Homo sapiens: one gene and its partners. The protein of the gene in region 4 interacts with the protein of the main gene of each other region in a pairwise test. Each region holds a gene or a part of one and is shown on either strand. Other genes may lie near its edges. The genes, in order: NAT8, HTATIP2, STARD4 and MTIF3.

Region 1 (7,022 bases), on a different chromosome or scaffold from region 4:
CTGGACAGAGAATGACTTTGACGAGTTGAGACAAGAAGGCTTCAGACAATCAAACTTTTCGAAGCTAAAGCAGAAAGTTCAAACCCATCGCAAAGAAGCTAAAAAGTTTGAAAAAAGATTAGACGAATGGCTAACTAGAATAACCAGGGTAGAGAAGTCCTTAAATGACCTGATGGAGCTGAAAACCATGGCATGAGAACTATGTGATAAATGCACAAGCCTCAGTAGCCAATTCGATCAACTGGAAGAAAGGGTATCAGTGATTGAAGATCAAATGAATGAAATGAAGCGAGAAGAGAAGTTTAGAGAAAAAAGAGTAAAAAGAAACAAACAAAGCCTCCAAGAAATATGAGACTATGTGAAAAGACCAAATCTACATCTAATTTGTGTACCTGAAAGTGATGAGGAGAATGGAACCAAGTTGGAAAATACTCTGCAGGATATTATCCAGGAGAACTTCCCCAACCTAGCAAGGCAGGCCAACATTCAAATTCAGGAAATACAGAGAACGCCACAAAGATACTCCTCGAGAAGAGCAACTCCAAGACACATAATTGTCAGATTCACCAAAGTTGAAATGAAGGACAAAATGTTAAGGGCAGCCAGAGAGAAAGGTCGGGTTACCCACAAAGGGAAGCCCATCAGACTAACAGCTGATCTCTTGGCAGAAACTCCAATCCAGAAGAGAGTGGGGGCCAGTATTCAACATTCTTAAAGAAAAGAATTTTCAACCCAGAATTTCATATCCAGCCAAACTAAGCTTCGTAAGTGAAGGAGAAATAAAATTCTTTACAGACAAGCAAATGCTGAGAGATTTTGTCACCACCATGCCTGCCCTACAAGAGCTCCTGAAGGAAGCACTAAACCTGGAAGGGAACAACCGGTACCAGCCACTGCAAAAACATGCCAAATTGTAAAGACCGTCGATGCTAGGAAGAAACTTCATCAACTAATGAGCAAAATAACCAGCTAACATCATAATGACAGGATCAAATTCACACATAACAATATTAACCTTAAATGTAAATGGGCTGAATGCTCCAATTAAAAGACACAGACTGGCAAATTGGATAAAGAGTCAAGACCCATCAGTGTGACCATCAGGAGACCCATTACACGTGCAGAGACACACACAGGCTCAAAACAAAGGGATGGAGGAAGATCTACCAAGCAAATGGAAAACAAAAAAAGGCAGGGGTTGCAATCCTAGTCTCTGATAAAACAGACTTTAAACCAACAAAGATCAAAAGAGACAAAGAAGGCCATTACATAAAGGTAAAGGGATCAATTCAACAAGAAGAGCTCACTATCCTAAATACATATGCACCCAATACAGGAGCACCCAGATTCATAAAGCAAGTCCTTAGAGACCTACAAAGAGACTTAAACTCCCACCACAATAATAATGGGAGACTTTAACACCCCACTGTCAACTTTAGACAGATCAACGAGACAGAAAGTTAACAAGGCTATCCAGGAATTGAACTCAGCTCTGCACCAAGCAGACCTAATAGACATCTACAGAAGTCTCCACCCCAAATCAACAGAATATACATTCTTCTCAGCACCACATCGCACTTATTCCAAAATTGACCACATAGGTGGAAGTAAAGCACTCCTCAGCAAATGTAAAAGAACAGAAATTACAACAAACTGTCTCTCAGACCACATTGCAGTCAAACTAGAACTCAGGATTAAGAAACTCACTCAAAACCACTCAGCTACATGGAAACTGAACCTGCTCCTGAATGACTACTGGGTACATAATGAAATGAAGGCAGAAATAAAGATGTTCTTTGAAACCAATGAGAACAAAGACCAGAATCTCTGGGACACATTTAAAGCAGTGTGTAGAGGGAAATTTATAGCACTAAATGCCCACAAAAGAAACTCCATCATCCCAGCCCAAAAATCTCGTTAAGCTGACAAGCAAATTCAGCAAAGTCTCAGGATACAAAATCAATGTGCAAAAATCACAAGTACACCAATAAAAGACAGAGAGCCAAATCATGAGTGAACTCCCATTCACAATTGCTTCAAAGAGAATAAAATACCTAGGAATCCAACTCACAAGGGATGTGAAGGACGTCTTCAAGGAGAACTAAGTCCTAACTGTCAAGTTCACCTTCCTAACAAAGTTATTCCGGATGTGATGTCTCCACCATCGTCCTGGTCCCAGAGCCCCATCAGGTGTGTCCTCCTGGGCAGCAGCCTCGCTTCTGACATCTGGTGCCTTCATGCCAAGTCCAGGCACAGCACATAACAAGCCTTCGGCCACTGTTTGTTGAATGAATAAATGAATCTTTCAGGTCCGACAAGGAAAGCCCAGGCTTTTATCAGGAAAGCTACAAAAATGCAGAAGTCACAGTAAATCCTGGGAGCAAGAGACGCCTGAATGTCAAGTGAGGTCGCTGTGTTTTGAGGAAGCCACAGCCACGGGTGAGCATGGAGGGAGAGACAGCACACAGGGACGGAGCACAAACCTCTCCCCCTCCACGTGACCGGCAGGTTTCTGACTGAATATTGGTTAGACTCACACTAGAAGTACTCAGTGGTGCTTTGGAGCCACCGCTCACCTCTTTTGATTCCTAGGCCAACTCCTGCTTGACACTGAAATGTTGCGAGAACACTCTAAAGATGAGCCATGGACTTCCTGCCCAGACTTGATGCTCCTTAGACTTTTCCTCGGAGGTGGTGTTGGGTACCAAAGATCTGGAATCTCAGCAGCCTCCACTGGCTGGCCCTGGGTTCCTGCTGCTGACTCCCAGCTTCTGGTTTCTGCTGAAGAAGGCTGCAGGGCAGCACCTTTAGGGGAAGCCTTGACTTTTCCAGATCTGGGCTCTCTCCAGTGTTTTCCTGAATGCCCCTACCAGAAGCCTGGCTGTCGTCTCTGAGCCCTTCCTCATCCTCCTCCCTGTGTGAATCATTCCAACTCCTGCCATTTCTGCCCCAAATGCACCTCCATACGGCTCATGTCTCACCTTCTTGACTTCCTCCCTCTGGTGAAGCCACTGCTGTCTCATGGGCCTCTGCTAACCCAGGCGGCTTCTTTGTGAACCCAGAGCTAGGCACAGCCTCAAGCCATGCAGCCCACTGGATGCAGAGTTTAGCAGGCAAGCAACGCCTTTGAGCAAATAAGAAAAGGTTGCCTTTTCCTTTGGCCAGTCTCAGTTTCGTGCCATGGCTCATGGCTTGGCAACCAGAGGGAGGCCCAGTTTTAGCTCCCACCAGAGCCTCTGGGCCAGCTGCTCTTGTACAGTGAGCACCTGCATCCCTGTACTGGAGGCCCCGCTCTTGCCTGGATGTGGCATGAGCCTTGAGGGGTAGCTGCTTCCATTCCTACCTCCTCAGATCCATTGTCCACCTGCAGCCAGAGTGATGCTTGCGTGCGCACACACACACACACACACACCTCCTCCCCTCCGTGCATATCAATGTCCTCCCCTTGCTCTTGGAATAGAGTCCAAACTACCTAACCTAGATGACGGGCCCAGCGTGGCTGATCATCAATAGGTTAGCTAATCTTTGGAAGGGAAGTTTCCCTTCAATAGCATGTAAGTTGGTGTGGAAAAGGGCTTTTTCTGTTAGGTTTTGCTTTTGCCTATCTTGTATATGTTGCATCCTTGTAATTGGGCCCCTTGAGATTTCAGCACCACACCATGTTTTAGTGACTGAAATAATGAACATTCTGATCAGACCGTTGCTGGCTTGCACATGTTAACCACTTGCTTTTGGTCCAATATTCCTTGTTCCCACAACATAATGATAAACTGCTCATGTACTGTTTCTTTGTTCAGCAGGAAGACATTCCTTCAGGGTCAGGAAAAGTTTGCAGAATGAATGAATGCCTTGAAGGACACTGTGACCAGCTGCTGACACTGAGAAGCCTGGTTGCACAAGGTGTTATCTCAGACTGAGGAAACACAGACTTTTCCTCTCAATCCCCCTGAACTCCCCCTTCCTCACTCTCTAGCTGCATAAAAACATTCTGCTGCTGCTTCTTTGTTGAACTGAAGTTGAGAGATCTTGCTCTCCTGCCTTCTTGCTTTGGCCAAATCGAATACAACTTTCTCTATCTCCAAGCACCCATGTGTCAGTGTTTGGGATCAGCTCCACGTCGGGTACAAGAGCATGAATTTGGGCCTCCCCAACATCTGCAGTGCAAAATATTTAACAACGGGTGTGGCACAGCCTCTGACCAACAGCCAGAACACACACAAGCCACACACAGCCATGCCTGTCAAGCCGAATGTCAACCTTGCTCATGGCTGAAATGACCCCAGGACACAGGAAGTGCATGACACACAACTGTTGACTGAATCAATGAATGGGTGGAGATGGGGGTTGGTGAGGTGAGTGCAAGGAACTGCCAACAACAGATGCTTCGTGGACCAGGGAAACCTCAGCGAGGAGAAGCCTAGCTGGGAAGGGCCTTGTTGCCAAGCATGGGGACTCGGCTTCTGGCCAATGGTGACTGATTGCAGGGTGAATGGTACAGTTCTCAGGCTCGTCGTATATGTGTACAAGGACCAGGGTGGATCGTATATGTGGACAGGGACCGAGAGTACTAAGTGTGCCAGGTGGCAGAGAGATGCACGGGGCCTGAACAGGCAAGAGAGGTGGCAGGCCTTCCAGAAGGGCAAGGAACCCAGGCGGTTCCAGACCCTGAGTCTCCCCCTCCAGGTCGTTCCCTTTGACCACAAAGAGGAATGCACACTGGGCTCCCTGCTGTGTTACAGCCCAGCTCTTTGACCCTAGGGTTGATGATTACCAAACATTCAGGAGCCAAGCAATAAGGCAGGCAGTCTACTTTCCAGGGGTGAGCAAGCCCCAGACGGTATCTCCTGGATGCCAGTGAGCGGCTGAGAGCTGAAGCTCCCTGGACACTCAAGGCTCTTGTGGTGACAGGTGAGGGGACTGGGTGGAAGGACAGTGCTCTGAGCATGCACCTTCCTTGGGATCTGGAGGCTGGGCTGTTTTTTATGCTTGGCTCTTATGCCACTTCAGCAACCTAAAAACTTACAATAAAGCTGGAGGGAGCCTTTCCTGAAACTTGTGTTGGACAGAGAATTTTTGCGATGTATGGTCCCTGGAGAAGGACAAAAGGGTTGCACGTGTGGCCTGCCTGAGGTAGGTGCCCCCTCAATGCACGGAGAAGCTGAGAGAGCCAGAAAAAGGAAACAGAAAAAGGAAGAGCGGTGGGTAGTTCATCTACCAGGGCTTTATAGAAGGCATCTTATTCAATCTTCAAAACAACTCTAGAAGGCAGGTTTTCTTCTCCCCTGTTCTATAGTTGAAGAAATGGAGGCTCAGAGAGGTTAAGTGACATGCCTAAGGTCACACAGCTAGAAAGGGATGGAACCAGATTCCAATGCAGGTCTTTCTGACCCTACCTTCTCCCAGTGGCAGAGGCCTGCTTCCTCATGGGCAAACGCGGAAAGACACACCCTTGAGCAGGTCTCCCTGTTCCTGCAAGGCTGGGAGCCATGCAGGCACTCACATGATTTTCTCTCTCTTCCCCAGTCTGACGTAAAGGCGTGCAGGGAGGCCTAGCTCTGTCTCCTGGACTTAGAGATTTCAGACACAGAAGTCTGTCCATGGCTCCTTGTCACATCCGCAAATACCAGGAGAGCGACCGCCAGTGGGTTGTGGGCTTGCTCTCCCGGGGGATGGCCGAGCATGCCCCAGCCACCTTCCGGCAATTGCTGAAGCTGCCTCGAACCCTCATACTCTTACTTGGGGGGCCCCTCGCCCTACTCCTGGTCTCTGGATCCTGGCTTCTAGCCCTCGTGTTCAGCATCAGCCTCTTCCCTGCCCTGTGGTTCCTTGCCAAAAAACCCTGGACGGAGTATGTGGACATGACATTGTGCACAGACATGTCTGACATTACCAAATCCTACCTGAGTGAGCGTGGCTCCTGCTTCTGGGTGGCTGAGTCTGAAGAGAAGGTGGTGGGCATGGTAGGAGCTCTGCCTGTTGATGATCCCACCTTGAGGGAGAAGCGGTTGCAGCTGTTTCATCTCTTTGTGGACAGTGAGCACCGTCGTCAGGGGATAGCAAAAGCCCTGGTCAGGACTGTCCTCCAGTTTGCCCGGGACCAGGGCTACAGTGAAGTTATCCTGGACACCGGCACCATCCAGCTCTCTGCTATGGCCCTCTACCAGAGCATGGGCTTCAAGAAGACGGGCCAGTCCTTCTTCTGTGTGTGGGCCAGGCTAGTGGCTCTTCATACAGTTCATTTCATCTACCACCTCCCTTCTTCTAAGGTAGGGAGTCTGTGATCTCTTTCTGTGTGTATTGGTCAGAATAGAATCCATTCAGCTGTAGCAGCAAGCAATCCCCAACCTTTCACTGCAATGACCTTTCAATGCAATAAAAGCTTATTGTCCATTCACATCTGAGTCCCATGTGATTGCTTGTGGGGTAGCTTCTGGGTTTCTGCTTCATTCAGTCTTTTTGATTCCCATCTGTTTCATTTTTCTAGTGCCAGCATAATGTTGCATAAGAACAACCACCAAATGAAACAAATATTTATTTAGTTCATGAGTCTGAAGTCAGCAATTTTGCCTGAGCTTGGCTGGGCAGTTCCTCTGGTGTCAGACTGCATTGTACAAATGCAGTGGGATTGGCTGAAAGACTAGGTCAATGGTGCTGTTTCGTTTTCCCACAGGCTACCTCAGGCATGGTTTCAAGGAAATTGCAGAGGAGCAAAAACAAAAGCAGAAACAAACAAATGTGTTTTCAAACCCCTGCATGTGTTGCATCTTCCCCAAACTCAAGGAGAGGAACCTGTCTCTGCAGTGAGAAGGGCTGCAAAGTCACATAGCAAAAGGGTGGAATGCAGCCTCGGGAGAAGAATTGGGGCCAGAGACACAACCAATCCACTCTAACTCCAGGGTCTCTGCAGAGGGAAGAAGGTGGCCTCAGAGGGGAGTGTGGGATTTACCATGGGCTAGACCTGGAAGTAGTATAACTCTTCCAGGGGATCATAACAGAATACCTGAGACTGGGTAATTTATAAG
Region 2 (7,032 bases), on a different chromosome or scaffold from region 4:
AAAATCAGAGTTCTGATAAACTGGCATGAGGGGAAGAAACAGATGTGGAAGAAAAATTTAGTGTCTTAGAATTTTTCTATGTAGTTTTGGGCTGTTTCTCTTGGCACACTTTCAGCACATCTAAAGTCTCCATTTGGAGAATGGCTCTGAGGGTAATCACTTCTCTCAGGATGTGCTGAGTACTTAAATTGGTTTGCTTTACACTAATTTTAAAAGCAACTGCATGAATTTGAGTCGGTATATAGACAGCTTGGCAAGTCCGTTGTTCAGGACTGAGTGTCAAAGTATACAACAAAAAGTATACAAAAGGAGATGGTGATGACTCGTGAGTAAAGAGGTAAGTTTATATTACCCACAAACTAAGGTAGAAAAAGTAAGGCAGAAAAATAACACTGTCCTCCAGGTGGTGGATATAGTTAAAAATGTACTTGTGAGTGATGGGAAAGGAGGATGAGGAAGGCTTTTACAGTAATGGTAATGTTCTATTTCTTGATCTTGGAACTGGTGGCAGAGCATGTTCAGTTTATGAAAATTTATTGAGCTCTATACTTATGTTTACTTTTATGATACACTTCCATACAAAGTTAAAAAATCTGCATGGGCGTATTGTTTTAAAATTGAATTCTGTATTAGTTTCCTATTGCTGCTTTAATAAATTCCTCAAATTTAGCAGCTTAAGACAACACAAATTTATCATCTTAGAAGTCTGACACGGGTTTACCTGAGATAAAATCAAGGTGTTGACAGAGCTGCATTCCTTTCTGGGAGGCTGTAGGACAGAAACCATTTCCATACGTTTTTCAGCTTCTAGAGGCCACCCCCATTCCTTGGCCTGTGGTCCCCTTACCATCCTTAAGGCCAGCAATGTGGTAGCTGAGCCCTTCTTAGGTTGCATTACTCCAGCCTGCTCTTCTGCCTCGTTCTTTTACTTTTAAGGGCCCTTGTGATTACATTGGGCCCACATGGATAATTCAAACTAATCTCTCTGTTTCAAGGCCAGCTGATTAGCACCCTAATTCTAAACACTGAATTTCTAAAACACTGAATTTCCCTTCCACATCTATTTCTTCCCCTCATGCCAGTTCACTAGAACTCTGATTTTAATAATGTGTTTGTTACAACAAAATGACACAGTTGACTGGTGAAATAAATTCAGTTTTTTTGTTGTTGTTGTTTTAGCATGATTCATCTTGCTTCTGCCTAAATACCATCTGTGATGGAATTCCCCCTTGTCATGTAACATGACATATTCACAAAGATTAGGACGTGGGCATCTTTGAGGGACCATTATTCTGCCTACCACAATCACGGATTAGTCATTTTCATTAGCGAGAGAGGGTGGGGGATAAAAAAGGAACATGGGTACAGTGAAAAGAGCACTGCTCAGAGTCCAGAATCTGCACTCTGCTCTCGGCTCTCCCACTTCCCAGCTAACAGTTCACCCGCCCACTGGACCTTGGTTCCTGTCTATATCATGAGGGGACTGGATGTGATATTTCCTAAGGTACCTTCTAACATTCTGTGAAAGATACACATCGCCCTACCAAATAGAACATTTAGAATCAGTAACTACTGAGGAGCAAATTTTTTAATTAAAAAAAAAAATCAGGCCGGGCGCGGTGGCTCACACCTGTAATCCCAGCACTTTGGAAGGCCAAGGTGGGCGGGTCATCTGAGGTCAGGAGTTCAAGACCAGCCTCGCTAACGTGGTGAAACCCTGTCTCTACTAAAATACAAAAATTAGCCGGACATGGTGACATGTGTCTATAATCCCAGCTACTTGGGAGGCTGAGGCAGGAGAATCACTTGAACTCAGGAGGCAGAGGTTGTGGTGAGTGGAGACCACGCCACTGCCCTCCAGCCTGGGCAACAGAGCAAGACTGTCTCAATCAATCAATCACTGGGGCAGTAGTCCAGTCTTCAGATTTGGAATTCCTACTACTCTAAGACCTCATTCTGTAATTGTGACTACCTATAAAGTTCAGCTTCAATAGACTTTAGACTTGTCTTCAGCTGTCTTGGGTTTGAAGATGCCAGAATTTATGGTGGTCTCAAGAGACTGTTACTCCTTGGAATTCCCTTTTCTGGGTAAAGGTGCATGCTTTTCAGTTAGGCCCTGGAAGTGAGTCTATATTCTGTTATTTGTGTCATTCTCTTCCCTCCCCCTTTTATTGCCACTTAGTTCTGTTTGTTTCTGACTGGATTTACCTTTTCTCTGCTTTCATTGGCGTTTTGTTCATTCATTTTTGGAGCATCTACCATATGCTGGACATGTGCTGATGCTGAGAGATGAATTAAGAAAAAAGACCCAGCCACTGCCTTCACTGGACTGAATCTAGATTGGGTGTCTCCAAACACTTTTGACTAGAGACCCATTAATAAAAACGTTTGAGGATGCATTCTTTACTAATGTGTGAGGTACATTGTAGAGCATACACAAAAATTGGGAATTAAATAGACTTTGTTCTCTTAGTGCCTGGGGAGTGTCCTCACCCATACTCGGAGACCCTACCACATTAGAATTGACACAGAAAACAGGAGTGTAAAGTTGTGAAGTTATTAAGACAAAAAAAAAAGTCTGGCTTAAAAGTAGTTTCTCAGCCTGATCTTACTGTTCCCTTTGTTCTTTGCAGATTTGTTTGGTGTCTGTGTTTCAATGTCATTGTCCTTGTTTCCTTATTGCAGTCCAGTCTTGCTGCTAAAGCTGGTGTGCCTATCCAGAGGACCAGACCTGGAGCCTTTCCCAGGGTCTAAGCCTGACTTTCATGTATTGCTTGGACACATTTTATTTAGATCTCCATCCTTCTAGGCCTCCCAGCCTGCTACCCAAGCCAAGTAGTAATCTTTAAGATGAACTTGCTGCTTTTTGGAAATAACTCATGTCCTTTTCCCCCTTAGGAGGGATTTGTTCGTGTTGACCGAGATTATGTGCTGAAGTCTGCAGAGCTGGCAAAAGCTGGAGGGTGCAAACATTTCAACTTGCTATCCTCTAAAGGAGCTGATAAATCAAGCAATTTTTTATATCTACAAGTTAAGGTTTGTGCAAGTTTCTGTTTTTCATACACTTTGGAGAACCCTAGCTATTTGGCAGTACTAAAGAATATAAAATATTATATAATACAAAAACCATCAAATGCATCATATTATGCATTTGTATGGCTACGGGACTGCAGGAATATATTTAGTAAACAGGAATGATTGGAAAGGTAATTTCCAATGTCTTCCTCTCTATTAATTATCCAGCAACAAATGGAATGAGATATGGCATCTCCAGCCTTGACTGTCAGCATGGCAGCTTAGCATTGGAAGAGACTTGGAGGCAGTGATTCTTAAACTTTTCCGTCAGTCTCCCTAATGACTGAGCGGAAAGAAGAGCTTTTATTTGTGTAGAGATTTGGAGAAATCTATCCTGAAGCAGTATTCTAGTTACAGACTCAACTTTCTTTTCTTTTTTTTTTTTTTGAGACAGGTTCCCAGGCTGGAGTGCAGTGGCATGATCTTGGCTCGCTGCAGCCTCTGCCCCGCCAAGTAACTGGGACTAGAGGCATGAGCCACCATGCCTGGCTAATTTTTGTATTTTTGGTAGAGATGGGGTTTTGCCATGTTGCCCAGGCTGGTCTCAAACTCCTGAGTTCAAATGATCAGCCCATCTCAGCCTCCCAAAGTGCTGGGATTACAGGTGTGAGCCACTGCGTCTGGCCTCAACTTTCTTAAAAGTCTTAACGTTTTATCTTTTAAAAATTTATGCACATTTTGCTATTCTTAGTACTATACATATCCCTGTTTATTTTAATTTAAAAGGTTTCTATTAACTTACCTTTCAGTTAAATTGATGCTGTTGGAAGATAGGCATGGCTTTGTCTTTGTGTGCCTCCCTTTGCACCCCAGGTGCCCACAGTTTAAGCAGCAGAGCCACAGAGGTCATTCAGCCATAGACTTTTCCTATGTGAAGTCCTTTTACAGAAGTTCATCTCCTTTCTGCTTAAATATCTCCAGCACTACAGAGATTACTATCTCGTTAGCCAACTTTTTCTATTTTGGGTCAGATCTACTTGTCCAAAAGTCTTTACCTTGAAGTGAAATTTATTGTTATGTAAATACAAATTGTTATCAGTTCTGCCTTTTAAAATAACAAAAATACGTCCAGTCTTTCTTTTGCATTGTAGTTTTTAAGACATTTGGAGATTATGACCCCCTTAATTGTATGTTTCCCAGGCATAACACCTTTAAATCCTTGCACCATTCTTTATGGGTTCCTGTGTCTAGCTCCTTCATGACTGCATCACTTTGCTAAGGGTGAACTTTGCAGTGATATTATACTGGAACTGCACTGGGAGTACTATTCATGCTCCGAACACTATGTTTTTTTAAAAAAATAGGATATAAGATTGTTACTATTTTACCAAACATCCTTATTATGTTGTTGGCTCATGATCAGCCTGTAATATTAAAAATTTCCAGATTTTTTTCACATGGCTTATAGCTGAGCCATATCTCACCTATCCTAAAATAGTATTTTGAACCAGATGAAGATCAGTGAGCCACCAATGAAATTACATGAAGAATGGAAAAGTTTCCACTTAATTGTCAGAGTTTAGAACAATTCTTAAAAGGAAAAAATCTGTTTTCCTTTTTTTTTAGAGTCAAAGTCTTGCTCTGTCACCCAGGTTGAAGTGCAGTGGTGCGGTCACAGCTCACTACAACCTCAGATTCCTGGGCTCAAACAATCTCCAGCCTCAACCTCCTGAGCAGCTGGGACTACAGGCATGAGGGATCAGGCCCAACTTGTTTTTTAAAACACTGACACATGTGGGTTCTGAGAAAGGTTATCAAATAGGATTTTTGCTCTCATTAGCAAGATCAACATTTATACCTTTTAGGAAAGAAAATATACATAAGATATTTCCTCATTGTTAAAGATAAAGGCGTTACTACTGACTCACTGGGTTATAATAATGATTTAACCAGATTTTTAAAAAAATAGCTAACACTAAATGAGCCAGGCAGTATTCTGAGGGCTTTTATGTGCATTTGCGTGGAAACAGGTACTGTGATATTAAGACCACCAGCTGTTGGCTGGGCACGGTGGCTCACGCCTGTAATTCTAGCACTTTGGGAGGCCGAGGTGGGAAGATCACTTGAGGCTGGGAGTTTGAAACCAGCCTGGGAAACGTGGCAAAACCCTGTCTGTACTAAAAATACAAAAATTAACTGGCACAGTGGTGTATGCCTGTAATCCCAGCTACTCGGGAGGCTGAGGCAGGAGAATTGCATGAACCCGGGAAGCAGAGGCTGCAGTGAGCCAAGATCACATCACTGCACTCCAGCTTGGGGACAGAGTGAGACTCTGTCTCAAAAACAAAACAAAACAAAACAAACAACAACAACAACAACAACAACAAAAACACCAGCTGTTAAGCGGCAAAGCTAGAGCTTGAACCCAGGCTGATTCCAAGGCCTATGCCACTAGCTATTAAGTAATGAATAGCCTTTGTCACTAATACATGCAAAAGGGACCCAGCAGAGATTGGACCGTGACAGAGCCTCAGCAAATATTAAGGCCAATACAACGGAAAGACACTTCTGATTTCACTGCAATTGGCCTGCATTACCTGCAGCCTGGGATTATGAATTAGATTAATAAAGGACAGAAATGACAACCAAATGATCCAACCCAGAATGACGCTGAACAATATATAATTGCTTTTACAATTTGGAAAGATTATCTTTCCAAAATAATCCTTCAACTACTGTGTGTAACATTCCTAGTATTTATTGCCTATTTTCTCAGCCTCCATGTGTGTATGAACTCCCCCGCCCCACCCAATTTTAGAAACTCCTTTATTGTTTAGGAACATTTATTCTACTCAATGAAGTTTCAATTGCATTCATTCATGGTGGGCCAGCTCTGGGGGCTTGGATCAATCATGTGCTTTATGGGCATTCTGCTGGTGCCGTGGGGAGACGTGTCAGGATGTGGAGCCCAGAGTACTGGATGGGCCTCATGTCCTCTGTTCTCAGGGTTTATAAGCTTTGGTTTCCTCATCTATTCAGGGTGAAGGTATACTTTCCAGACATGTGACATTTTATTATTGGGTATCATCCTTGACCTCAAGGAGTTTATAATCTGCTTGTATTGAGGGATCCTCAAAGACACCCCCAAGTTTGGTAATTCACTAGAAGGTTTCATAGGACTCAGCATATAGTCATACTCACAGCTACAACTTATCGCATTGAAAGGATATAGAGCAAAATCAGCAAAGGGAAAAGGTGTGTCGGGTGAAGTCTGGAGGAAAGTAGGTACAAGCTTCCAAGAGGCCTCTCCCCATAGAGCTTGCACAGGATGTGCTTAATGTCTCCAGCGATGAACGTTTTCTGCCAGAGAAACTCATCTGAGCCTAGGAATGCAGGGTTTTTATGGGAGCCAGTTACATAGGCACATTGGCCTAGCCAAATTGCAGCCCTCCAGAAGAAAGGCAAGTTTTCAGCATAAACCACATTGTTTGTACAGACAGTTTAGGCATAGTACATGACCCTTATCAGATAGGGAATGGTGGGAACACACCGAAAATCCAAGGTTGCAAGCACAAGCCAGGGGCCAAACTTGTAACAGGCCTTTCTAAGGATAGCAGTCTCAGCCTGCTATGGTATCTCTTTTATGCACACTGCTAATAGAGACAAAACAAATCTTTTAAAAAGCTAAGAAATGGGCTGGGCGCGGTGGCTCACGCCTGTAATCCCAGCGCTTTGGGAGGCCGAGGCGGGCGGATCACGAGGTCAGGAGATTGAGACCATCCTGGCTAACACGGTGAAACCCCGTCTCTACTAAAAATACAAAAAATTAGCCGGGCGTGATGGCAGGTGCCTGTAGTCCCAGCTGCTCGGGAGGCTGAGGCAGGAGAACGGCATGAACCCGGGAGGCGGAGCTTGCAGTGAGCTGAGATTGCGCCACTGCACTCCAGCCTGGGCGACAGAGTGAGACTCCATCTCAAAAAAAAAAAAAAAAAAAAGCTAAGAAATGTGTGTACACAT
Region 3 (7,032 bases), on a different chromosome or scaffold from region 4:
ACCTTGGCCTCCCAAAGTGCTGGGATTACAGGCATGAGCCACCATGCCTGGCCCACCCTTCACTAATTTTTATTCTTTTATTTTTATTTTTTTTTTGAGATGGAATCTCACTCCGTCACCTAGGCTGGAGTGCAGTGGCATGATCTTGGCTCACTGCAACCTCCACCTCCGGGGTTCAAGTGATTCTCCTGCCTCAGCCTCCCAACTAGCTGGGACTACAGGCGCATGCCACCATGCCTGGCTAATTTTTGTAATTTTAGTAGAGACAGGTTTTTGCCACGTTGGCCAGGCTGGTCTTGAACTCCTGACGTCAAGTGATCCACTCACCTCAGCCTCCCAGAATGCTGGGATTACAGACATGAGCCACCCTACCCGGCCTAATTTTTTTCCTTACTTTCAAAGTTAGCTATGCACTATAAGGGTATGCTGAAATTTTTTTATTGTAACAGCGGTTGACTTAAACTTTTTTTCTCCAGCTACAAAGCCCAAGGTGTTATAGATGACCTTGTCTATAGTATAATAGACCATATACGCCCAGGGCCTTGTCGTTTGGATTGGGACAGCTTGATGACTTCTTTGGATATTCTGGAGAACTTTGAAGAGGTATCTATTTAGAAACATTACTTTAGACTGTGTGTATGTGCATGAGGGAGGGCATGAGTGAGCCAGAGCATGTGAGCATGAGCATTTGTACACACTTATATTCATTGCTTTGAGAATAGCAGTCACGACAAAGATATCACAGGGGAGTCCCATGCTGCCTCTTAAAAAGTTTGTGTTTCCTCATACTAATTAATGAGTGTTAGACTGAGTTTCTTTTCCACAGTACCTATACCCTTGCTGCTTAAAACTATATTCAGCATCCTTCATTGTAAAACTTTAGTTAAGATTCTGAAATCTAAAATTCTGAAAACACCACCATCATATTTAGGTTTCTAGGTGAATGTGTGCAGCTTTTCCATTAATACTAAGCCAACATCAATGACCAAAGATAAAAATGCCACCTTAGATATTCTAAAATTATATAGCCAAAATGACCTGCCCTGTTTCTATTTTTATTAATTCATTGCTTAATGTTTGAATTTTTTACTTAAAATGTTTGATGTTGCAGTCAAAGTATTTGTGGATTTGATCTTAAACACTGAAACAGTCTACATCCCTAATTCCATTTGGAATGTTATGTAGAATAAGACAACTGCATTTAATTAGATATTTGGATACTGGATAACTTGTACCTCTGTATTTTGATTATATATCTTCTTCATGGCCATCCAATAGCAGTGAGATTTAGAATAGAGATCTAGACCTGTCAGAATCAGTGTAAGAATTATTATAATTATGAAACATTTTAAATAAATATTAGTTTCTTTCCAGAGATAAGTTTATGATATATGAAGCTATGTATGTTTCCTATAGTAGTAACACTTGTCTTATCTCTTCTTTTTCAGAATTGCTGTGTGATGCGTTACACTACTGCTGGTCAGCTTTGGAATATAATTTCCCCAAGAGAATTTGTTGATTTCTCCTATACTGTGGGCTATAAAGAAGGGCTTTTATCTTGTGGTAATAATCTCAACATGTTATGCTTTTTTTCAGTATGGTTTAAATATTTGTGTTTTCTTGGCTGGATGTCTCTTTCCTTGTGAGATATATTTTCAACTCTGACTCTGTAATCACTAACATTTTTTGCAAGTGCTAAACTCTAGGGAGTAAAATAGCAATATCAAAAGAGTTTTGAAACCCTTCTGATAAGTTTTTGTTCCCAGTTACACAGTATCCTCTAGGTCAGAGGTAGCAAATGTGGATCACATGACTGCCTCTAAGAAAGGGTTCTAGTAAATGGATTTTCTTCTAAGCCACTCTCAGAAAACAGTTTCTTGGTCATACACAGAGAAGTACTAGATTTGGTGTGTCTTAGAATATTCTTCCTTCCTTGAGCTGTGTTGTATTTTTCTTTTCAAGATTAAAAATACTGCCATTGGAAGGCTCCTGTTTTCTAAAACGTACCTATAGGTAAATTAATATTATTTTGTATATAGTGTATACTTAAGTTAGCAGTTGTAAGTAAACATCTACTTGTTTATTCTTAACTAGCCAGTACCAAACTATAATATGGTAGTCGCTGTGGGGAATAGTTACGGTACCATGGATTTGATTTTTGGCACCTCAAGGCCTGGATACTACAACCAAGATTTGTAGCTTCCAAGGAGTACTAAGATGATATGATGTCATGTATTCTGAAAGGATTAAAAGTTTCCCCATTACCTATCTGCCAACCTCTTGTCAGAATTCTCCTTGGTAAGTCTCTTTTTCACTCTGCCATGGTCACTTTGGGATTTAATTTTCATCTATATGGATAATAATAAATATTTAAATAAGAATTCTGGTAATATTTTAAAATGAGAGTTTTATGTCAGTTATTGCTATTAATAGTGCTATTTTAAAAATTGCCTTATAGGAATAAGTCTTGACTGGGATGAAAAGAGACCAGAATTTGTTCGAGGATATAACCATCCCTGTGGTTGGTTTTGTGTTCCACTTAAAGACAACCCAAACCAGAGTCTTTTGACAGGATATATTCAGACAGATCTGCGTGGGATGATTCCTCAGTCTGCGGTAGATACAGCCATGGCAAGCACTTTAACCAACTTCTATGGTGATTTACGAAAAGCTTTATGAGAGGCAAAATACATTCAAACTTGTAGTACTACAGATCAACTCTCTCAGCTACATGGCCTGTAAAAATCATTGATTCCACTTTTCTGCATAGCCGGTAGAAAAATTTGAAATGTTTTTGGTTCACTAGTACAATGTTTGGTTTTATTCCTAAAGTAAATAGCTATCTAAGAGAGGGCATTTTCACTTTTTTTTTTTTAAATTTTGAGACAGGCTCTCACTCTGTTGCCCATGCTGGAGGGCAGTGGTATGATCACAGCTCACTGCAGCTTTGATCTGACCGCTCAAGGGGTTATTCTACCTCAGCCTCCTGAATAGCTGGGAATACAGGTGCACGCCACTATGCATGGCTAATTTTTGTTTAATTTTTTGTAGAGATGTGGTCACACTGTGTTGCCCAGGCTGGTCTTGAACTCCTGGCCTCAAGTCATTCCCCACCTTAGCCTCCCAAAGTGTTGGGATTATAAGCGTGAGCCACCATGCCTGGCCCCAATTTAAAATGTGGAATTCAGTTGGTGTCCAAGACTTATCTTGAGACTCTTAAAAGCATCAGTCTGTAACTAGAACAAATACAGTCTTAGATTTACCCAAGTGCCTAGATATCATTTTATAATGATTAGAATTGAGTATTGTGGGTCCCCTAATTCTGTGGGTGCCTTAAGTGAGAATTTCTAAATGATTTTCACATTCTAAATGACTTTGGGTTTTGAACTCTCCATCTAGTTTACTTCTAAAATGGGAACTTGAGGCAATTCAGGTATCCAGGCAAATCTTTGTATATATTTTTTTGTGTACATGCACACATCTCGAAATCCATTTCCGTGTTTAATGTTAGTTGTTTATGTGTTAGTATTCCTGTGTCTACTGTTTTGTTGTTGTTAATATGGGTAAAGTGAGCCCTGAAATACATGCTAAACAAGACATGAAATGCAGAAAGGTACATAGTGTTTCAAGTGCATGGTAGTTTGATCTGTGTTTTACTTTATTGTGTTTTCTTGAGTGTAAAGAAAGAATAAATCAAAGTTCTTCATACCCATTTTGACAAAGTGGAACAGTGGAGCTGTTTTTTGCTTTTGTTTTTATTTATTTTTTGCCACTGGTGATGATAGATTTCAAAAAACAAAAGGTGGCAGCAGCACAATGTTCATGGTGAATTATCTCATAGTATCTAGATTGATCAAGATCTGACAGAAGGAATGCACAAAGGATTCTATATTCTTAATGATTTATTAATTACCAGGATCCTTTTCTAAATTGAATGTACTTTTGAATTACTAGGTTTCTTCTTTTTTTTTGTTCTGCAATAGTGAAAGAAAACTCAGTAGTTTAGTTTCAGTTTCTCATGGAAATTGGTAAATGTTAGTTTTGACTTCATCTATTTTTTATTTGTTTTTATTAGCGTAGAGTAGGAAGTCTCATATTCTACTGTTCTATCTAGGATGGTGAAATTCCAAAGGTGCCTAACTTGAGTAAGGGATTTGTGACAAGATAGTACACATTACTATAAGGGCTATTATTTCCTGAACTGGATGTCCCTAAAAGCAAATAAACTGCCCACTATCTCTACTCTAGTGCTCTCTTTGTCCTTATCAACATATACCTCCAATAAGTAATTACATAATTCACCGTTAAACATGGACCCACTCTAGGTAAAATTACCCTCATGGAAACATTTTCACTGTGAGAATGATGAATTTAAAAATTATGTTTGAATCACCTAAAATGTATGTGCAGCTTCTAGATGGCCCCTTAGATCTGCTGGGCTCTAGCTGTGTACTTTAAAAAAACAAAAACAGCTTTATTGATATATAATTTACATATTATGTAATTTACCCACTTTTAAGTATCTAATTCAGTGATGTTTTAATACATATGTAGAACTATGCAGCCATCAGCACAATCTGGATTTAGAACGTTTCCATCATTCCAAAAGATTCCTTTTGTCTTTTTTGCAGACTCATACCTAACACAAATCTAAAGTTTATCACTGTTGCCAGGATAATTACAGCAGGTTATGTTTGGTTTCATTTTTAAGAGTGGAGGTGTTCATGATTCTAAGCTCAGGAATCTTGTGATCATGTATTAAATATGTTATCTCATACTATAATGATAAAAAAGCTTAATGATGTGGGTTGGGATGGATATTAACATAAATAATTGAGTCCGCTGCTTCTATAGCAATGCTGTAGGATAGAACAATAATGTAAGTGATATATGTAATTAAAAAATTCTAGAAGCCACATTAAAAAATAAAAATAAACAGCTGAAGTTAATTTTAATATTTTATTTAACTCAATACATCCAAAATGTTATCATTTTAACATGTAATTGATGTAAAGATTTATTCTGATAGTTTGTACTATTTCTTGTACTAATTTTTTGAAATCTGGTATGCATTTTACAAATTTGGGCAAGCCACATTTTAAGTGCTCATTAGCCACATGAGGCCAGTGGATACTGTATTGAATAGCACAGTCCTATAGCATATTTATTAATTTGTCTTGTAGTAAGATGAAATAGACAATAATACGGAATAATATCTTAAATGGAAATCTTTGTTAGTCTCTAGAGCCTTCATTGCTTGATAAATAGGACATCTAAACTTTAGATATAAATCAGTTGTCAATGAGATAAAATTATTGCCAGCAAATATTTTCCTTCAAAGATAAGTAACTTTTGATATGGCAGTTGGTGAAATGAAAGAATATAATCTGCCTTCTTGTTAAATGGTTGACTATTCTGTAGCTTGTAGGTAGTACGTATTAGAAACTTGTGTATGTGGGAAATATTTGGCATAATACTGTTTTCAGTATATAGTAGCTATTTTTTAAGGAAATTAGTTTCATACAAGAAAAAGATTATTATAAAAGTGATACTTTTGCATGAAATATTAGTTTGTGTTGATAACTCTTAGTTAACCCTTAAAGTTTAAAACAGTACTCAAAAAAAAATAATGAGAATCTAGTATTCTGTAGTTAACTAATCTATAAGATAAATTGCTAAAGTACTAGGGAGCTTGTAAATCTTAAAAATCTTTTTATTTCAGTGTTCATTCAGGTTGGATATATTTGAAATTGTAGATTTCTATCTGTACAACATCTCCTAGTTAATAGAATTTTTTTCCTTCCCCTCCCTTCTCTCTCCTCCTCCTTTTCTAACCAAAGGGCATTTTATCAACAATCATGCTGAATTCAATTAATATCTCAAGCTAAAAAACTATGTAATTGAGGTTGTATCTGGAGAAGATGGGAAAACATTGTATAATTTAAGCCCTTAATTGTCTGTTGAGCTTTTAGGGCTGAGTAATTGCCTTTCATACAAATAAAAGCTTTAACTCTTTTCTCAAGAGTGTACCACCGTCCTTAGAATCAGGTGTTTTAAATCCAGTTTCTTTTAATTAAATGGGACTGTAGTGATCCCTACCCTGTAGAGAAATCAACAGAACTAGAGAAGCTAAGGGCTTGATCAGGTTTCCCCTAGAACCTGTGTTGCCTGCCTGCTGTATCTTCCATGTCTTTCTTATTCAACTTCTAGAAGTAGAGAAGGTTGGGACTTGAGTGTAGAAGAAACATCAGAATAATTTCAAAAAACAGGAAGTTGGAACTATAATTTTTAAATTATTGTATTGTTTTTACGGATTTTACATGTATAGTTAAATATTAAAATTCATCTCTTGCAGTTCAATAAAAGCTATAGTATAGATTTTATTTTTAAGAAGTTTATATAATTCTTTTGTGAACCAATATGTAAAACTAGAATATTTATTAAACTAATAATATGTATTAGTATCAATAAAATATGTATTTATTTTTAAATTGGTATGAAACAAAATAAAAATTTGTAGACACTCTTAAAATTGGTCATTGATATTATCTTTGTAATTTAACATTAAGTACTATTTAGTTTCATATGCCTGAATTTAAAGTATGTAATTTAACTTCCTGAATTCTTACAAAAGGAAAATATAAACCTGGAAAGTCAAATTAACAACACACATGCTGATCTCTCCTGCCAGTGTCTCATATAATATTAGCTGTTATACAATACTGCTGAAACTTTATTTGCTATTATATATTCAGAACAAATAATATATTGTGCCTTTGTAAATTATGGACAGGATTTATTGTACACATGTTGAAATAATTGTGTTACCTTGATTAGGAATTATGATATTTTGTTTGGAATTGAAAAAAACTAAAAGTGATTACAAGGACACCCACGATCTATGTTATAAGAAGGCAGTTAGGGATGCTGTGGTAAGTATGTAATAGAAAATATGACTGTGAAGCAGGGAGTTACTTTCCTCATTTAATAAAACATCTGGTACTATGGTTTGAATATTTGTGTTCCCCTAAA
Region 4 (5,454 bases):
TAGAGAACAGCATTTCCCTCACACTTGCAGTTACAGCCTCCACAACCTCACACACACCCTGCCATGTACCACAATGTCAGACCAAGGGAATAAGTGATTGAATTTTAATGAACTCTTCTTACTACTTTCTTAGGATGGCTGCTCTTTTTCTAAAGAGGTTAACACTACAAACTGTAAAGTCTGAAAATAGTTGCATTAGATGTTTTGGTAAACACATCCTGCAAAAGACAGCACCAGCACAGTTGTCCCCTATTGCTTCTGCCCCAAGACTCTCCTTCCTAATTCATGCAAAAGCCTTTAGTACCGCTGAAGACACCCAGAATGAAGGAAAAAAGACAAAAAAGAATAAAACAGCTTTTAGTAACGTTGGAAGAAAAATTAGTCAGCGAGTTATTCACTTATTTGATGAGAAGGGCAATGATTTGGGAAACATGCACCGAGCAAATGTGATTAGACTTATGGATGAGCGAGACCTGCGACTGGTTCAAAGGAACACCAGCACAGAACCTGCAGAGTATCAGCTCATGACAGGATTGCAGATCCTCCAGGAGCGGCAGAGGCTGAGGGAGATGGAGAAGGCGAACCCCAAAACTGGTAGGTATTTTGCTGTTGGCTCCCTGAATCCTTTAAGAGCTACAAATCAGCAGTTTAAATTCTAGCATTTGTCAAGGTGCCTGTGACAAGAGGGAAATGAGAAACTAGAAAATTCATGATTCAACCACCATTCCCAGTGTCTGTCTTTCCTCCTTTATCCTGCACTTACTCCTGTTCCCTTTTTTTCACTGTTTTTCCACAATACCCTGCCCATTATCTCTTCCCTTTAAACCTGTGTAAAATGTGGGAGAAACCAGGCAAACAAACCAAAGTGAAGAGAACTCTTTCCCCTGTCCTGTGGCCTTCTCCCAATGCCGCAGCAAGCTGAGTAGCCGATGGGGTGAAACAGAGTGAGATTAGGAGGGGTACATTCAAGTTCCCTGCCCTCTGCCGGGCCACTCATTTAACCTCCCTCCTTTTGTTTTTCTTCCCCTTCTTCAACTCTAAAGTGGAGGTGTTTGGTTAATTATCTGGAAGCACCTTTTTATTTTTTTGAGATGAGTCTCTGCCTGCCGCCCAGGCTGGAGTGCAGTGGTGCGATGTGTGCTCACTGCAACCTTCGCCTCCCAGGCTCAAGCGATTCTCCTGCCTTAGCCTCCCCAGTGGCTGGGATTACAGGCGCCCGCCACCACGCCCGGCTAATTTTTGTATTTTTAATAGAGAGGGGGTTTCACCATGTTGGCCAGGCTGGTCTTGAACTCCTGGCCTTAAGTGATCTGCCCTCCTCGGCCTCCCAAAGTGCTGGGATTACAGGCGTGATCCACTGCGCCTAGCCTGGAAGCACCTTTTCGACTCTGAAGTGATTCACAGAGCATCTCCCATGCCAAAGCATTGTGTTGCAATATCAGTAGCAACACTCTTAGATATACAACCAGTCACTTGACGAGGCACTTGTCATTTAAGCCTCACAGAAGTCAGGAATTGGATATTAAGCAAAGATGTTTGTTTTTCATAGTTCCTAAAAAGTGCCAATCATTATGAAAGTTCAATGGATGGCGCACGGGGACAGGCATCAGATGACTGCTCCCAGCACTGCATCGTGAGGTTGTGTGCCTTCAGAAAACCACATGTTATCTGCGGCTCAGTTTTGTAATGCCACATTTAACAAGGATGTTGACTGGAAAACAATATTCAGAAGAGACCAACCAGGGAGGATAATGACGTCAAACTATGTCACTTAAAAAAAAAAAGGTCACTGGGCGTGGTGGCTCACGTCTGTAATCCCAGCACTTTGGGAGGCCAAGGCAGGTGGATGGCTTGAGCTCAGGAATTCAATACCAGCCTGGGCAATATAGCAAAACCCCATCTCTACAAAAAATTTTAAAATTAGCAAGGTGTAGTGGTGCAAACCTGTGATCCCAGCTACTTGGGAGGCTGAGGTGGGAGGATCACTTGAGCCTAGGAGGCAAAGGCTGCAGTGAAGAACCATGATCATGCCACTGCACTTCAGCCTGGGTGACAGAGCGAGACCCTGTGTTTAAAAAAAAAAAAAAAAAAAAAAAAAACAGTCTTGCTCTGTTGCCCAGGCTGGAGTGCTGTGGTGTGATTTCGGCTCACTGCAGCCTCCATCTCCTGGGATCCAGCAATCCTCCCACCTCTGCCTCCCACACAGCTGGGACCACAGGTGCACACCACCATGCCTGGCCTTTTTTTTTTTTTTTTTTTTTTGTAGAGATGGGGTCTCGCTATGTTGCTCAGGTCTTGAACTCCTGAGCTCCAACGATCTGCCTGCTTCAGCCTCCCAAAGTGCTGGGATTATAGGCGTGAGCCAGCACACCTGGCCCCCAATCTTTATGATGAACCCTGGTGCATACTCTAGGGTCTATGAACCTAAATGGATCAAACTGCTCAGCAGCAGTGTATGCAGTTTCTCTACCTCCTCCCTCATTTGTCATTTTAATGGTGAGAAATTAATGTGTATTTCACTTTTTTCTTCTGTGAATTGCGTGTTTATATTCCTTTATTTTTCTACGTAGATGGTTTTTCTCCGATTTATAGGGTTCTCTGTTGTGTATGATGGAAAAAACCGTATCCCAGTTAGATTTTTCATTTTGCCTTTTTTTCTTAATGAGTTCCATCCCCTATCCTGAGATCACAAACCATTCTGTCTTTTCTTCTGTTTGTTTTAAAGTTGTATTTTTCACCTGTAGAACATTAGTATACCTGGGGAGACCTAACTTTTTGTCATCTATAAACTTCTCAATTGTCCCAACACCTTTATTGAGTGGCCGGTTCCTTCTCTATAATTTTCCAGTAGGCAGGATTTCTGGAGACAGAGGGCATGAACACAGGATGTAGGGACCCTTACCTGTCCAACAGTCTGGCTGACCCCTTATAGCAAGGAGAGCATCTCAAAAGGAGTGGGTAGTGCACTCCCAGATGCCAACCCACAGCTGATAGATAAGGATGTTAAGTGCACCATGAAGCCAAACTTGATCCTTTAAACGACTATCTTTTGGTGTTCTTTCAACAAACGATGGTTAACAATAAATGGAAGCATTTCAGATTTTAAGTACCCTTCCAGGGCAGGTAAAAAATTGGTACCTTTATGTGTATCTTCCCCATTTGAAAAGACATTTACTGGTCTGTGAAACTGAAAGCCAGATGAGAAGATTGTCAGGTGGCAACCTAGGATTTTATGATGGGCATGTTGGGAAGTTCAGGGTTCACAGTGGACTAGTCAGTAGTCCTTGCACCCTATCTGTTTCAAACCAGGACCAACCCTGAGAAAGGAACTGATTTTGTCTTCAAATATTGGACAACATGATTTGGACACAAAGACTAAACAGATTCAGCAGTGGATTAAGAAAAAACACCTAGTCCAGATTACCATAAAGAAAGGAAAAAATGTAGACGTGTCAGAAAATGAAATGGTAAGTAAAGAAGGTACAAGCCACTGCTTGTGCTTTGGGTCTTCTGATCTAAAAATACAATTGTAGGCCAGGCGCGGTGGCTCACGCCTGTAATCCCAGCATTTTGGGAGGCCAAGGTGGGCGGATCACGAGATCAGGAGATTGAGACCAACCTGGCTAACATGGTGAAACCCCGTCTCTACTAAAAATACAAAAAATTAGCCAGGCGTGGTGGCGGGCACCTGTAGTCCCAGCTACTGGGGAAGCTGAGGCAGGAGAATGGCGTGAACCCGGGAGGCGGAGCTTGCAGTGAGCCGAGATCGCGCCACTGCACTCCAGCCTGGGTGACAGAGCAAGACTCCGTCTCAAAAAAAAAAAAAAAAAAAAAAAATTGTAGAAAATCTGAAATATAAAGACAAAGTGACTGGTAATTCTTCCACCCAGTGATGTTAACAGCTTTCTAGTTTGCTTTTCAAAACTAAGCATACTGTAGATATAGTTTCCATTACAGCGTATTTTGCCATATGAACACATTATTCCTTAAAAGCAATATACTATTGTTTTATAAATTGTAGAATAACCCTTAAACAGGAAAATTAGAAACTTTATAGATTTTTTGTTTCTTCTTTGTACTTATAGGGGCATTAATTACGTAGACTGTCTTCTAGAAAGTGTGTAGTTTCCAATCCCATAAGTTTATGGAATACCTATTTTGCTTTTTTTTTTTAAAAGTTAGATAACTTTATCATCCACTAAGGGTATCCTTAGTAATCCAGCTCCACAGTAGAGTCACTTAAGCATAGGTCGCAACCCAGCTGATGCAGAATTTCTTGAGCCCAGGTATCCATTTGTTTCAGTCACTGAGAGAGACTCTGTTAGGGGCAATAGAGAGTGCTGAGAACTGCTCGGCTGACACCTTGGGGATGAGGAGGTATTTTGCCAATGCCCAAACCCAGTGCTTTCTGTTTGTGGGAGAGGGTAATGCTGAGCCAAACGTAGCCTCTTCGTGCCATGACGAAGTGGAGATTTAAAATTAGGAAGCATTCAGCATGTCAGTTTAGTTACATGGTGTTATTGTACAGATTTCAGTCAACTTAACCAGATACGTATGAACTGATTAGCTAATCACTTAACCGACAGCAGCAATTCAAGGGTGCCAGTTTTTGTGAATGTTCAAGCAGAACATTAGAAAGCACCAAAGCCTCTGATTTTAAATTAATCTTTGGCTGTTTCCCTTTTTTAGGAGGAGATATTTCATCAAATACTCCAGACTATGCCTGGAATAGCTACATTCTCATCTAGGCCACAAGCTGTTCAAGGAGGAAAAGCTTTAATGTGTGTTCTTCGTGCTTTCAGCAAAAATGAGGAGAAGGCATATAAAGAAACTCAAGAGACCCAGGAAAGAGACACTTTGAACAAAGACCATGGAAATGATAAGGAATCAAATGTTCTGCATCAGTAATTTTAATAAAGAAAAGCATGCTCTGAGAGAAAGCTCGCTCCTTGGTCTGCAGTCCTTTAAACAAAGCAGTGCAGTTCTTAGCCAAGGGTAAGTACTGCAACTGTCGAGAGCATCTTGTCTTCCACACAGTTGGGTGACTCTCCGTTTTGACACAAAGATAAGCCTTGCCCTTGTTTCCTTTTGGGAGGGATATATCCACTGAGATGAGAGGCCAAACTCCGTTTTTCACGAGATTTTTTGACCTTTGGGAATAAGGAAGACACACGATTAGAATTCAAAATCAAAACTGTCTGAGTTAATTTTACGATAGTCATATGTACCAGCAGATATAGTGTACAACATTGCTTTATGAGGAAGTAAAGTCTTCAACAGTAGTGCAGACTCAAACAGTAAAGCAGGTGAAAAGAATTCCAAACAGACTCCTTCTGGCCTTAAACAATTTCCACTTGAAAACTAAGCTTGCCTAAGTAGTTTCAACTTACTTTGAGCTTCATTTTCTTCTTGTCAGGATCATGTACAACAGCATGCCTAGTGAGACTTTGCTAC

Evidence for each region.
Region 1: the proteins of MTIF3 (region 4) and NAT8 interact in binary tests that used the Homo sapiens proteins (3 or more experiments, as listed by UniProt).
Region 2: the proteins of MTIF3 (region 4) and HTATIP2 interact in binary tests that used the Homo sapiens proteins (3 or more experiments, as listed by UniProt).
Region 3: the proteins of MTIF3 (region 4) and STARD4 interact in binary tests that used the Homo sapiens proteins (3 or more experiments, as listed by UniProt).

Annotation. Positions count from the first base shown.
Region 1 is NC_000002.12:73,640,204-73,647,225, reverse strand, and holds NAT8 (N-acetyltransferase 8), read left to right. Parts: upstream 1-4,803; 5' UTR 4,804-4,908; intron 4,909-5,523; 5' UTR 5,524-5,597; coding exon 5,598-6,281; 3' UTR 6,282-6,503; downstream 6,504-7,022. UniProt on the Homo sapiens protein: Endoplasmic reticulum (ER)-membrane-bound lysine N-acetyltransferase catalyzing the N6-acetylation of lysine residues in the lumen of the ER in various proteins, including PROM1 and BACE1, using acetyl-CoA as acetyl donor.
Region 2 is NC_000011.10:20,373,682-20,380,713, forward strand, and holds part of HTATIP2 (protein HTATIP2), read left to right. Parts: intron 1-2,898; coding exon 2,899-3,036; intron 3,037-7,032. UniProt on the Homo sapiens protein: Represses translation by preventing reactivation of elongation factor eEF1A. May also inhibit nuclear import by competing with nuclear import substrates for binding to a subset of nuclear transport receptors.
Region 3 is NC_000005.10:111,495,533-111,502,564, reverse strand, and holds the end of STARD4 (stAR-related lipid transfer protein 4), read left to right. Parts: intron 1-476; coding exon 477-603; intron 604-1,448; coding exon 1,449-1,563; coding exon of another isoform or gene 1,564-1,646; exon of another isoform or gene 1,647-2,094; coding exon of another isoform or gene 2,095-2,111; exon of another isoform or gene 2,112-2,400; intron 2,401-2,458; coding exon 2,459-2,679; 3' UTR 2,680-6,532; downstream 6,533-7,032. UniProt on the Homo sapiens protein: Involved in the intracellular transport of cholesterol. Binds cholesterol or other sterols.
Region 4 is NC_000013.11:27,435,129-27,440,582, reverse strand, and holds the end of MTIF3 (translation initiation factor IF-3, mitochondrial), read left to right. Parts: intron 1-133; 5' UTR 134-134; coding exon 135-594; intron 595-3,309; coding exon 3,310-3,467; intron 3,468-4,689; coding exon 4,690-4,908; 3' UTR 4,909-4,940; downstream 4,941-5,454. Other genes in the region: GTF3A (transcription factor IIIA), read right to left, coding at 4,986-5,150, 5,391-5,450. UniProt on the Homo sapiens protein: IF-3 binds to the 28S ribosomal subunit and shifts the equilibrium between 55S ribosomes and their 39S and 28S subunits in favor of the free subunits, thus enhancing the availability of 28S subunits on which protein synthesis initiation begins.